2 separate regions of the Homo sapiens genome follow, and region 2 is linked to region 1. The links come from fine-mapping of genetic effects on gene expression. Tissue or cell type: whole blood. Region 1 holds a variant in brackets; the other region holds the start of a gene. All regions are shown on one strand. Distances are between the middles of the regions.

Region 1 (5,197 bases):
CAGCAGAAAAGACATGAGCCCCTAGAATGGGGCAGGGAAATAAAGCCCCAGGGATTAAATTTTAGAGGAATAAGGAGACAAAGATCAAGGTTGTATTTAGATGACATTCTGGACTGTTCTTATGTAACACAAGGTTACATTTGTAACACACTTAGCAGGGAGCTGGGCACGTGGAGCCCACTTGATCAATGTAAGCCATTATTAGAATAAGAGCCTAAATATGAAGAAATATAAAGAAGAGCATTTCATTTAATCCCCCAAATAGCTGTGTAAGGTAGGGCTTGCTCTTCCCCTTTCCAATCCAGCAGCATGGAGCAATGGCCACTTCTGGAGCCCTTTTGCTGTCAGAGGCATAAGTGGCCCAGCCAGCATCAACCCCCTCACCGTGCTCCCTTGTCTGGGGGCCATGAGCATATTGGAACATCCTTTATAAGAACTTGACTTGGGGTAAGAGTAATGATTTCAACTCTACTTAAACATTTTTTGCTGATTCATCATAGTCCAGGATGATATTATTTATGGACTAAAGTAGTCTATAGCTTGGGGGAAATATGACCTGGAAGTCTATTTAAAACATGGAAACCTGCAGATTAAAGAACAAGATAATAGAACAAGATAATTGCAAAGCCCATTCGCCTGACCTGACTGGGAGTTAAAAATCACCTTGGCTGACAAGACTATCCTTTTCTTTCCTCCTGAGTGAAATAGCAGGTGCAAAGACTCTGCCTGTGTTCTCCTAGATGGACGCTCTAGGGCTTTACCAAACCCAGCAGGCTGGACCGACACCACAAAGACTCATCTTTGAGGTTGTCGTTTGGTGGCGCCTCATGGTCTTGTGTCAGGCGAGTAATATGCGGTTTTTTAAAACATGCCTTCCTTTTTGAACAGCACCTGAAAAAGACACTCAGAGGCCACTGTCTGAAAATGGCAAGCGCTGTTTGTGAAAGGGACCAGTGTGTAGGAAAGCCCTTTCCCACGCTGATTTGCTCCTTCAATAGACATGTATTGAACCACTACTGTGTGCTAGCAGGTCTCTGCCTTCAGGCCATGCCCATCTAATGTAAAACACTGAGGCCTCAGCTCTGTGTTGGGACCAAGTGCCCAGGAGCTCCATCAAGGGCCACTGAGGGTCTTAGGCCTGGGTCAGATGGTAGAAGTTCAGACCAAGCTCTCCTGGCCCTTCCCCTGAGTCTGGTGGTCTGATGGCTCCTCCCTGGTCACTAGGTATGTCTTATCAGGCCTCCTGGATTTGAATTCAGACTCTGGGATCCCAGATTTGGCGGCCAGTCATGCCTCTATGACCGAGTTGTGGCCTCAATGAGCTATTGAACCCCTCTGTGCTGCAGTTAATATTTCTGTATAGTGGAGATAATCACAGGCTCTCTGTCTGCGAGCTATTGTGAGGATGAGAAGAGATGAACTATCCAATGTGCTTAGTAATAAAAGCCACTCTTTCCTGTTGAACACCTACAGTGTGTGCAGGCCTGTGCTCAGCACTCCCGACATCCATTCATGGACTAAATCCTCCCAACAGAAATCCTCCCTAGGAATACGTGTTGTCACTGTCCCCATTTTACAGATGAGAACACTGAGGCATAGGCATTTCGATAACTTGCCCACAGCACAGTGAGTGGGGGTAGAGGCAGAATTCAAATCCAGACAGCCTGCAAGAGAGCTGTGCCCATAGCCACTCACTAGGTTGCCCTGATCCTGGCTGCAAGCCCCTGCTCAGTAAGGGTTGCTGATGGCGATTACATCTTTACCACTGTCATTGGGAGAGAAGACGTGCATGTTCATTGTCAGAAATTCTTCCATAAAGCACAGGGCATAGCAGAGCCTTTATTGTGGCCCCACGGCAGGAATGAGTGAGCAGGCTAGGCACTTACTCATTGAGATGACGTGTGCGCAGGTCATCCTAGCTATTTTTATTATTTGGGTGGGCCACATGTATAATATGGGTGGAAACACTTCATTCAACACACACCCTACCCACACACCCAGTCACACTTTTCTTGGTAGAAGGTGAGGGGAATAATCTCTCCTAACTATAACACCTCTCCCTGCAGCCAGCTAATATCTCCAGGAAATCTCTGAACACTTGCTGGAAAAAGCCAGGTTCAGACTCTTCTGCTGGCTAAGCTCAGTCCCTCTGGAGTAAACTCTTATCTGAGCTCCACTCTGGACACTCCCGACCCTCACCTTTTCCGCTGTTCACCCCAGGGATGTGTGCAGAGTGGCCACTGCCATTGTCCTTCCCCAGTTCAGAAATGTTGGCATCCCAATCCGGGGGCTGCCCACCCTGAGGTTTAAAGAATCCACCTTTTCTCCAGAGGTAGAAAGAAGACCATGGTCACCCATGCGACCCCCCTTAAGAAAGAGTCCACA[C/T]GTCCTTGTATTTAAGAGACCAGGGATCAAAGGCTATGCCATAAACTTGATAACAGCCTTTCAGGAATAAGTCATGCAATGTGAAACATACCCACTGACTAAGATTCCAAAAACACTGAATTGTAGATTCAAGGAAATAGAGAGTGTCCATCTCAGCTAGTGCATAGACCCCTCAAAGGCTCCTGTTGTCCTCAAGCCAAGTCCAAGAGCCATGGAAAGGCAGCAAAGCCACCCATGACCTGACCTCTGCTCAAGGCTCCAGCCTCAGCTCCCACATCTCCGGCATCCCCTGACCTTCTGTTTCCACTACAGTTGTTGTTCCCCAATGAGCCTGGGTGGATCATGCCTCTGTGTGGTTATACATGCTGTTCCTATGCTGGGGGTGCCCTTCCACCCAGTGGCAGCTCCAAAAACACCACCCCTGGGAAGTGCTCCCACTGTGACGATACTGTGGGAAAATATTAGGCTTGATTTCCACCTGTGTGGCTCCTGGCTGGGAGGCCTCAGCACAGGAATCGCCTGCCACACCTTTAACATGCAGCAGTATTGCTGGCTGTGTGTGGGGCTGGCGGCTGTGCGGTGGAAGGAGACAGCCATGGGAAGGGCTCACATCACATCCGGCACGTGGTAGGAGCTTCATGGGGTTGGTTCCCTCGTGTTTTCTCAGATTCTGTTTTTACCCTTACTGAGACGGCAGCCAAACCCCGAGAGAAAATAAAATCAACACCACCACACACAGGCCTAGCGAAAATTCCACTTCTATGTATGTTGGGGTTTTTTCTTCCTGGTCTTTCTTTTTGATCAAACTATGACACACATATCATAAAATTCATCCTTTTAAAGTATACAGCTCAGTGGGTTTTGGTATCTTCACGGAGTCGGGCCACCATCGGCCTTCCCTAATTCCAGGGTATTTGCATCACCCTAGATGAAACCCCACACCCATGCGCAGTCACTCCCCACTCCCCTGTCCCTGGCCCTCCTGGGCCCCCGACAGCCCTAGCCTACCCCTCCCAGCCTTCTAGCGAGAGCTCCTCCTGAAACTGGAAAGCTGACATTGGCCTTGCCAGTTCCTCAAAGGGCGATGGAAGGGCTATGCTGGCTGGCGGAACCAGAGGAGTTTTGTGAATAAAAATTGTTATTAGATACAGAAAAGGGAATCAAATCTAAGGCACCCCTTAGATGGAGATGATGATTGGACCAGCTGCTGGCTGTGTGCCCCTGGCAGGCCACTTCCCCACTCACTCTGAGCCCTGGGGCCCTGCTGCTCTCCCTTCATGGGATCCTAGAACTTGCAAAAGTCTCTGTTACCATGGACCTCAGTAGGGAGCGAGTCTTGGGAGAGCAGCAGAGGGAAGCCCTGCCTCCCAGCGGGCAGCTGGGGGAGAGGTGGGGAGGCTGTCCCCAGGCCCTGCCAGTTCTGGTGCCCCAGGATCCTGAGGGTAACTTCCCATGGGCCCCACCTGAAGCCAACAGAACCTCTGCCTATCATGTGAAGTCTTTTCAGGTCTGAGTGTGTCTTATTTTGCCCTTGGCCATCTCCTTGTACCTTCTTGGGAAATAAACGTGTCAAGGATGTGGCATTGAGGACTTGGTTTTTCCTCCTTCTCATGATCAGAACTGCATTGTGAGCAGGATTCTCTTCTTTCAGTGGCACACTGAGAGCCTATTTGTAAACTTGGGTAGGAAGAAAGCAGGTTAGGACGAATACTACCTTGATGGGCATCGTAACGTGTGCTCTGGGCTTCATTTAAGCTGCACTGCAGGGGATGTCACTGCTTGGAGTGCATCACTTGCCTCTTGAATAGTGCGTGTCGTAGGGATCTGTTTGCCTTTCATAGCTGGCTGGAAAGTGAAAGGCCTCCTCTCCCTAAGGGGTAAGCTGTGCCCCACTGGCCCCCTCTTCCTCACTCCCATGGGGTCTGCAAGAGCTCCAGCTGCCCTTCTTGTGTCCTCACTGAGAAGACAGAGATGGTTGAATGTCGTGGGCGTCTAGATATCTAGCGGTGGTGCCCATGTCACCTCCACATGCAGGCTCCATTCTTGGGGCAGCCTGGGAGGCAGCCCTGGTGTTGAAGAGAAGGAGACCCTAAGATCCCCCAGGCTCACCATGGTTCCCCAGGGAGTGGGGTCAAGCAGCCCTTGAGTGGCCTTGGCCAACCAGAGCCGCCTGCTTTTCAGAGCTACCTTGCAGGTCACTATCTCACAGGGGACTCTTGAGGAGTCTCTGGACTCATGCATGGAAAATGCTATATACGTGGGACTGGTGCCCAGCCTGGCTCAGTTCCTTCCCTCAGCCTTTGTTCCTGGGGATCATGCTGGGCAGGAAGACCTTCTGCAGGGTCGAAACCACCTGGTCCAGTGGCCCAGTCCCCTCAACAATGACCAAAGGCCACTGCACTCAGCAGCATCTCCTTCTCCCACAGGAGAGTACCTGGCCATACCTGTTTGGAGTGATTGTGGTCCCTGCCGTTGTCCAGCTGCTGAGCCTTCCCTTTCTCCCGGACAGCCCACGCTACCTGCTCTTGGAGAAGCACAACGAGGCAAGAGCTGTGAAAGGTGAGGGCCCTTCCCTTTCCTGCACAGCTCCAGCCCCTGCATAGATCATCACTGCAAGGCATGCTGGGACCTGGGCCAATGGGCACAGGAAGGGGTGTTGTCATTGTTCCTTTTTGCAGGCACTGGGCTGGGTATCATAGGGTACCTTCTCATTTCATCTTCCCAACAGCCTTGCTGGGGGACAGAGAGGGGACACAGAGTCACCCAGGGAGTCTCCCAGGGAATCTGGAAAAGCCAGAACAGACAAGATAAG
Region 2 (5,129 bases), 78 kb before region 1:
TGTGTCCTCATTTCCTCTTCCTATAAGGACACCAGGCATACTGGAATACAGCCCCATGCATATGACTTCATTTAACCTTAATTACCTCTTCAAAAACCCTATCTCCAAATACAGTCACATTGTCAGGTACTTGGGGTGAGGACTTCAACATGTGAATCTGAGGGGACACAATCAGCCCATTGAGACGCACACCATCCCTGCCCACAGTGAGCTCCCGTGCAGAGGGGAAGGCACACGTGAGCAGCAGCACACGTGCAGAGGGGAAGGCACACATGGAGCACAGAGGCAGCGAGAGGTTGGGGAGGCTGCTGGGAGGAGGTGGCGAGAGAGTTAAGTGCTGAAGGGTGAGCACAGTTCAGGGCAGTCAGAAGTGAGGGCCTGAGCAAGGTCAGGAGAACCTGAATGAGTAGGAGCTTCATAAAGACAGGCAAGTAATGACTGAATGAAGGAACCAGTGAGTGTCAGAGCAGGCAGAACGTGCCCCAGCCCAGAACATCTGGGGATGTTTGTCTTATGACTTCATCTGTGATAGGAGTCGCTTCCTTAGCAGTTGCCTGCAGTGCAGGGCCGATGGCCCTGTGGAATGGGGAACCAGCCCTCGCTTTGGAGGCAGGCTCCTCCATGCTCCCCCTGAACTTCAGTTGCCCCGAAATGTAGGTCTGATAGTTCCTCTGAGGACTAAACGATATCATGAAGGTGAACACACTTGGGAAAGCCCTGTGCACATGTAACATGAGCTGTGCACATGTAGTAGGAGCTGAAGGTGAGGCAAGTGCTGTGGCTACCAGGAACCCTGGTTAGCTACCATCTGGATCCGGGAGGGACCCATCTCCGCTCTTTTACTTTCTGTCCAGCTGTAGCTGCACATTCATGTCCACTGCCTAATTTCTGGTTCCTTTTGAGTTTTCAAACCCAACAGAGGACTACGAAGCAATTTTTAACGGGATGAGGGGACACCTGATCCAATTTGAGCTTTAGCAAAATCTGGTGAGGTCCCCACTGTTACAGATGAGGAAACAGGGAGGGTATAGAGAGGGGAGTCACAGCAATGGGATGAGGAGGGGTAAATGAGATGATGAAAATGCAGTCCCTATCAGGACAGCATAGGGGCAGAGGGGCCCTCCATGCACAGGGATGCAGCTGTCCCTGCCCCTCCTCTGCCCATCTCCTGTACTTCAGGCCCCAACCATGCTTCACTGACAATTTCACTTCCTCCCACACACTGCAGGCATCTGTGCCTGCAGGCCTTGGCTCCTTGTCCTCTCACCCCGTATCCTTCTCTGTCCGCTCAGAAGCCGCCTCTTCCAGCGGGGTCTCCAAGATCCAGCTGAGATTGATGTGGTGCCTCCTCCACACTGTCCTGGGGAATCCTCCGCCTTTTTAGGTCATGTTATAATTAAGGATTTGCACATCAGAATGCTGCTCTAGGCCCACCACTCAATGAGGAAACCAGGCTGCATAGCTGAAATCCAGTTCAAGAAACAGCCACTTCTCCCGGGGCATGCCTGACTGATTAACACACAGAAGGACGATTGCACTGAATGACTGGCGTGCTCAATACATCCCCAACCTAACTCCTGAGGGTGGTTTTCCTCTTTGGAAGTCTTGATTCCCCACTTGCTTTGAGCAGCCACATTCCCACCACCGTGCATGTCAGGGCCGGACGTTTCCACGTGCGTTTCACATTCCAGGTTCCTGGAATGTCTGCCGTACTCCACACCTTTTATTTTATTGTGTGCTTTTTACTAAACGTACTTTGCTAACTTTTCGATCTCTCTTTTGTGGACTGAGCCCTACCTTGCCTCCTGGACGTTCTGCATTCACCAAGCCTGTCCCTGGCTCTGGCCCAGACTCTGCACTGCTCTCTGCTTCTGGGAGCAAACTGTTCTAGCCAAAATTGAAGGTGCTTCTCTGGCGTCTGAGGCAACATGGCCATGTGATGAACTGATTCCCACAACCTCCTGGTGTGCATGAGGCCCTTGCCTTCTCAGTACTGTCCTTGAGCCAGCCTGGGGCTGGAATACAGGACATGTCCCCTCAGCCAGTGCTGAATGAGCAGGACAGAGTAACGACTAAGAGGCAAATTCTTTTTCTTCCAAACCCACAGCCCTCGCCTTTGTTCTAGGCTACAGGAGAGCCCACACTCATTTACAGCACGCCACTTGGGGCTGGCTGTTTTCTATTTGAGCTTCAGAATAAGTCTGCAGGACAGTCAGAGTGGGGTCAATATTCCATTTTGCAGTGGTAGAAGTTGCAGCTCAGAGAATAAAGTGACTTGCCTGAGGACACACAGTTAAAAAGTGGAGGAGTTGGCCAGACATGGTGGCTTACGCCTCTAATTCCAGCACTTTGGGAGGCTGAGGTGGGCAGATCACCTGAGGTAAGGAGGTCAAGACCAGCCTGGCCAACATGGTGAAACACAGTCTCTACTAAAAATACAAAAATCAGCCAGGCGTGGTGGCACACGCCTATAGTTCCAGCTACTTGGGAGGCTGAGGCAGGAGAATTGCTTGAACCCAGGTGCGGAGGTTGCAGTGAGCAGAGATTGCATCAGTGCACTCCAGCCCGGGCAACAGAGCAAGATTCGGTCAAAAAAAAAAAAAAAAAGTGGAAGAGTCAGGGGCAGAGCTGTATGCAGGCTTCTGAGTCAAAGTCAGCCACCTCTCCATTCTGTTCCAAGCATTAGGGAGGTATCCTAGGTTAATGGCAGTCACCCTGCTCCAGGCTTTGTTACCAGAGAAAAATAAAAAGATGCTAAGAAAAAAAAAAAAAATTCCACCCCCTGGGTGGCAATCCTGGAGAGGACAGATTTCCCTTTTTGGACTGTTTCATTGCTGTAATAACTTAGGAGCAGAGAAAAAAATGTTGCCCCGTTGCCTGTTCAGGCATGATCAAATTGCCACACTTCCTGTCAGGAACTCCCGCCCTCCTTCCAGTGGACTCTGCCTCCTCACTCACGGAAATGCCTTGGCAGAGTCTGGGGTCCCTGGACTGAGCCATCAGCTGGGTCACTGAGACCCATGGCAAGGAAACAAAATAGGAATTCCAAGGAACTGGGCCTAGTTCCCCTCACAGATGACACCAGCCACGCCGGGCCTCCAGGGCCAGGGAGGGCACTGCTGGAGTGTGACCACCTGAGGAGTGGGGTGCCAGGTGGAAGGAGAAGAAAGGTAACTACGGACAGCTTTTCTGCATGGCTGGCGGGCTGTGGGGAAGGCAGGCCTGGGTGGCAGCCGTGTGACAGTGCTCAGCCCCAGCCTGGCAGCGTGTAGCTGGGGGATCTGGGGCTTTGAGGCAGGGAGGCCTCAGTTTGAGTTGCACTTCTCCATCTGTGTGACTTTGGCATGCTCTCTCCAAGCCCCAGCTGACTGGGCCAACAGCGTCTCTGGTAGACTGGGTGTGTACATGGAATGAGGCTATGGTGGCAGGCTGCCCTGCCCCGCACTTGCATGGTGGTGTCCCTCTTCTCACCCTCCCCAGGGCATGGCACGGGCAGCAGCACCGTCGGTCAGTGGGCACCCTCTGCCCGTGCAGTGAGTGGGGAGCGGGTGGAGGGCACAGGCGGGCCACACAGGCAGGGGGCTCCGGGGAGCACAGCTGAGGCAGGAGAAGATGGCCCCCACCTGCCCTTCACCAGCCTCTGGCAGGGGCACTTCACACCAGGTGCTCCCAATCTGATGGGGTGCAGACCAGGGAGGAGTTTGTGTCCTCTAAGGTCATCGGGGCTGGGAGCAAAGAAGGCACAGAGCACAGAAACGATGCCCAGCACAGCCCAGGGGCTCAGAAGAAGTGGTATCTGTGCCGAGACTCAGAGGATAGGTTTAAAGAGAAAGAGTGATAGAGAACAGGCGTTTCATCTGAAATGTGATTCTGTTCCATCAGGGATCCCCATTCAGCTCAAGCTCCTCTCACTGCAGAAAAATATTCTGGTACTACATTTCAATTGGCAGCACCCATCCCCAAGGCTTATAAATGTTCCCTCTTGCCCCCGCATGTGATCAGCAGCCTCTACGGAGCACCTCCTCTGCAGCAGGCTCCTCAACAACATATGTGGCCAGTGCTGCTATTAAGATCCCATTTCACAGGTGGGCAAGCTGAGCCCCAGAAAAGTCAAGTCACTTGCTCAGACTCCTACAGCTGAGGGGACTGGCCCTGGAGGTAAAGCTGATATCACTTGGCTCAAAGCCCCAAAGCTCTATCTCGTGGCTGGTGGCACTAGAGGAGACAAACGAGACTGGCAGAGCAGGTAAGTGGCCATCAAGAGACCCGCATTCCCTTCCAGACGGGATTTGACTGATATGGGTCCCTGAACCATGGATCCATATGTCTTCTTCACTGTTGCACCCCCACAGCTTTGTCAGGGCCTGGCGCCTACAACACACACACACACACACACACACACACACACACTCACAAATATGTCAAATGATGGCAAAGAAGGTGCCTTCCGGAGCACCTGGCCCCTGTCCACTTGGCCTGTATTCCCTGACCAGCTGAGGACAGCCATCCCTCCTGCCCTGGCTCATGCCAGCTTGTCAGCCTTTGCCAGGGATCCAGGTGTTTCTGCCCTATGGCCCTGTACTGGTGGTGGCTGTCCTTAGATGGGGCTGCAGGGCAGGACAACACCAAGGCAGGCGCCCTGTTCTCTGTGCCAAACCTTGCATCTCTACGTCTGCAGGTCCTTGTCCTGAGGCTTGGACCAGCCCCTGTAGTTTGACGCCTCAGACTGGAACAGTATGTGCATGTAAGCGTGTGTGCACATCTGTCTGGCTGTCGGCAGTCTCAGGCCCTTGGACAACGGCACTCAGGTGACGGGTCAGCAGGGGACAGTGCAGTGGTGACTAGAGGGGCACTGCAGCCAGGCCACCTGGACTTCAGTCCCCATCCTAGACAGCACCAGCCACGCTCCCTGCCCCTCTTTCCTCACCTGTAATACAGGACATAACAGCACTGATCTAAGGACTCAGAGACAATGCGCAGAAAAGTGCTTAGAATCACGCCTGGCTGATAGCGCTTGGAGTCTGGCTTTGCTTTTTTCTGTCTGGGTCGGACACTCGCCAACTTCGCTGAAAGGATCGTGTGGAGCTGCCCAGAGCAGCTGCTGAAAACTGCGTTTCAGGAATCCTCAC

Evidence for each region. PIP is the estimated chance that this variant, and not a neighbour inherited with it, causes the effect.
Region 2: it holds the start of SLC2A9, and the variant in region 1 is fine-mapped to the expression of SLC2A9 in whole blood (TOPMed, PIP 0.95).

What each region holds. Positions count from the first base shown.
Region 1 is chr4:9,941,660-9,946,856 of GRCh38, reverse strand. SLC2A9 (solute carrier family 2 member 9) reads left to right here. Exons shown (of 12, transcript NM_020041.3): 6 at 4,812-4,944. Among named protein-coding and RNA genes, the nearest start is that of SLC2A9-AS1, 44 kb to the left of the region's middle. RefSeq lists an enhancer at 1,325-2,524. The variant C/T (reference allele first, on the strand shown) is at 2,386.
Region 2 is chr4:10,019,321-10,024,449 of GRCh38, reverse strand. It overlaps SLC2A9 (solute carrier family 2 member 9), which reads left to right and starts at 2,953. Exons shown (of 12, transcript NM_020041.3): 1 at 2,953-3,170. The coding sequence starts at 3,021. RefSeq lists an enhancer at 2,972-3,471.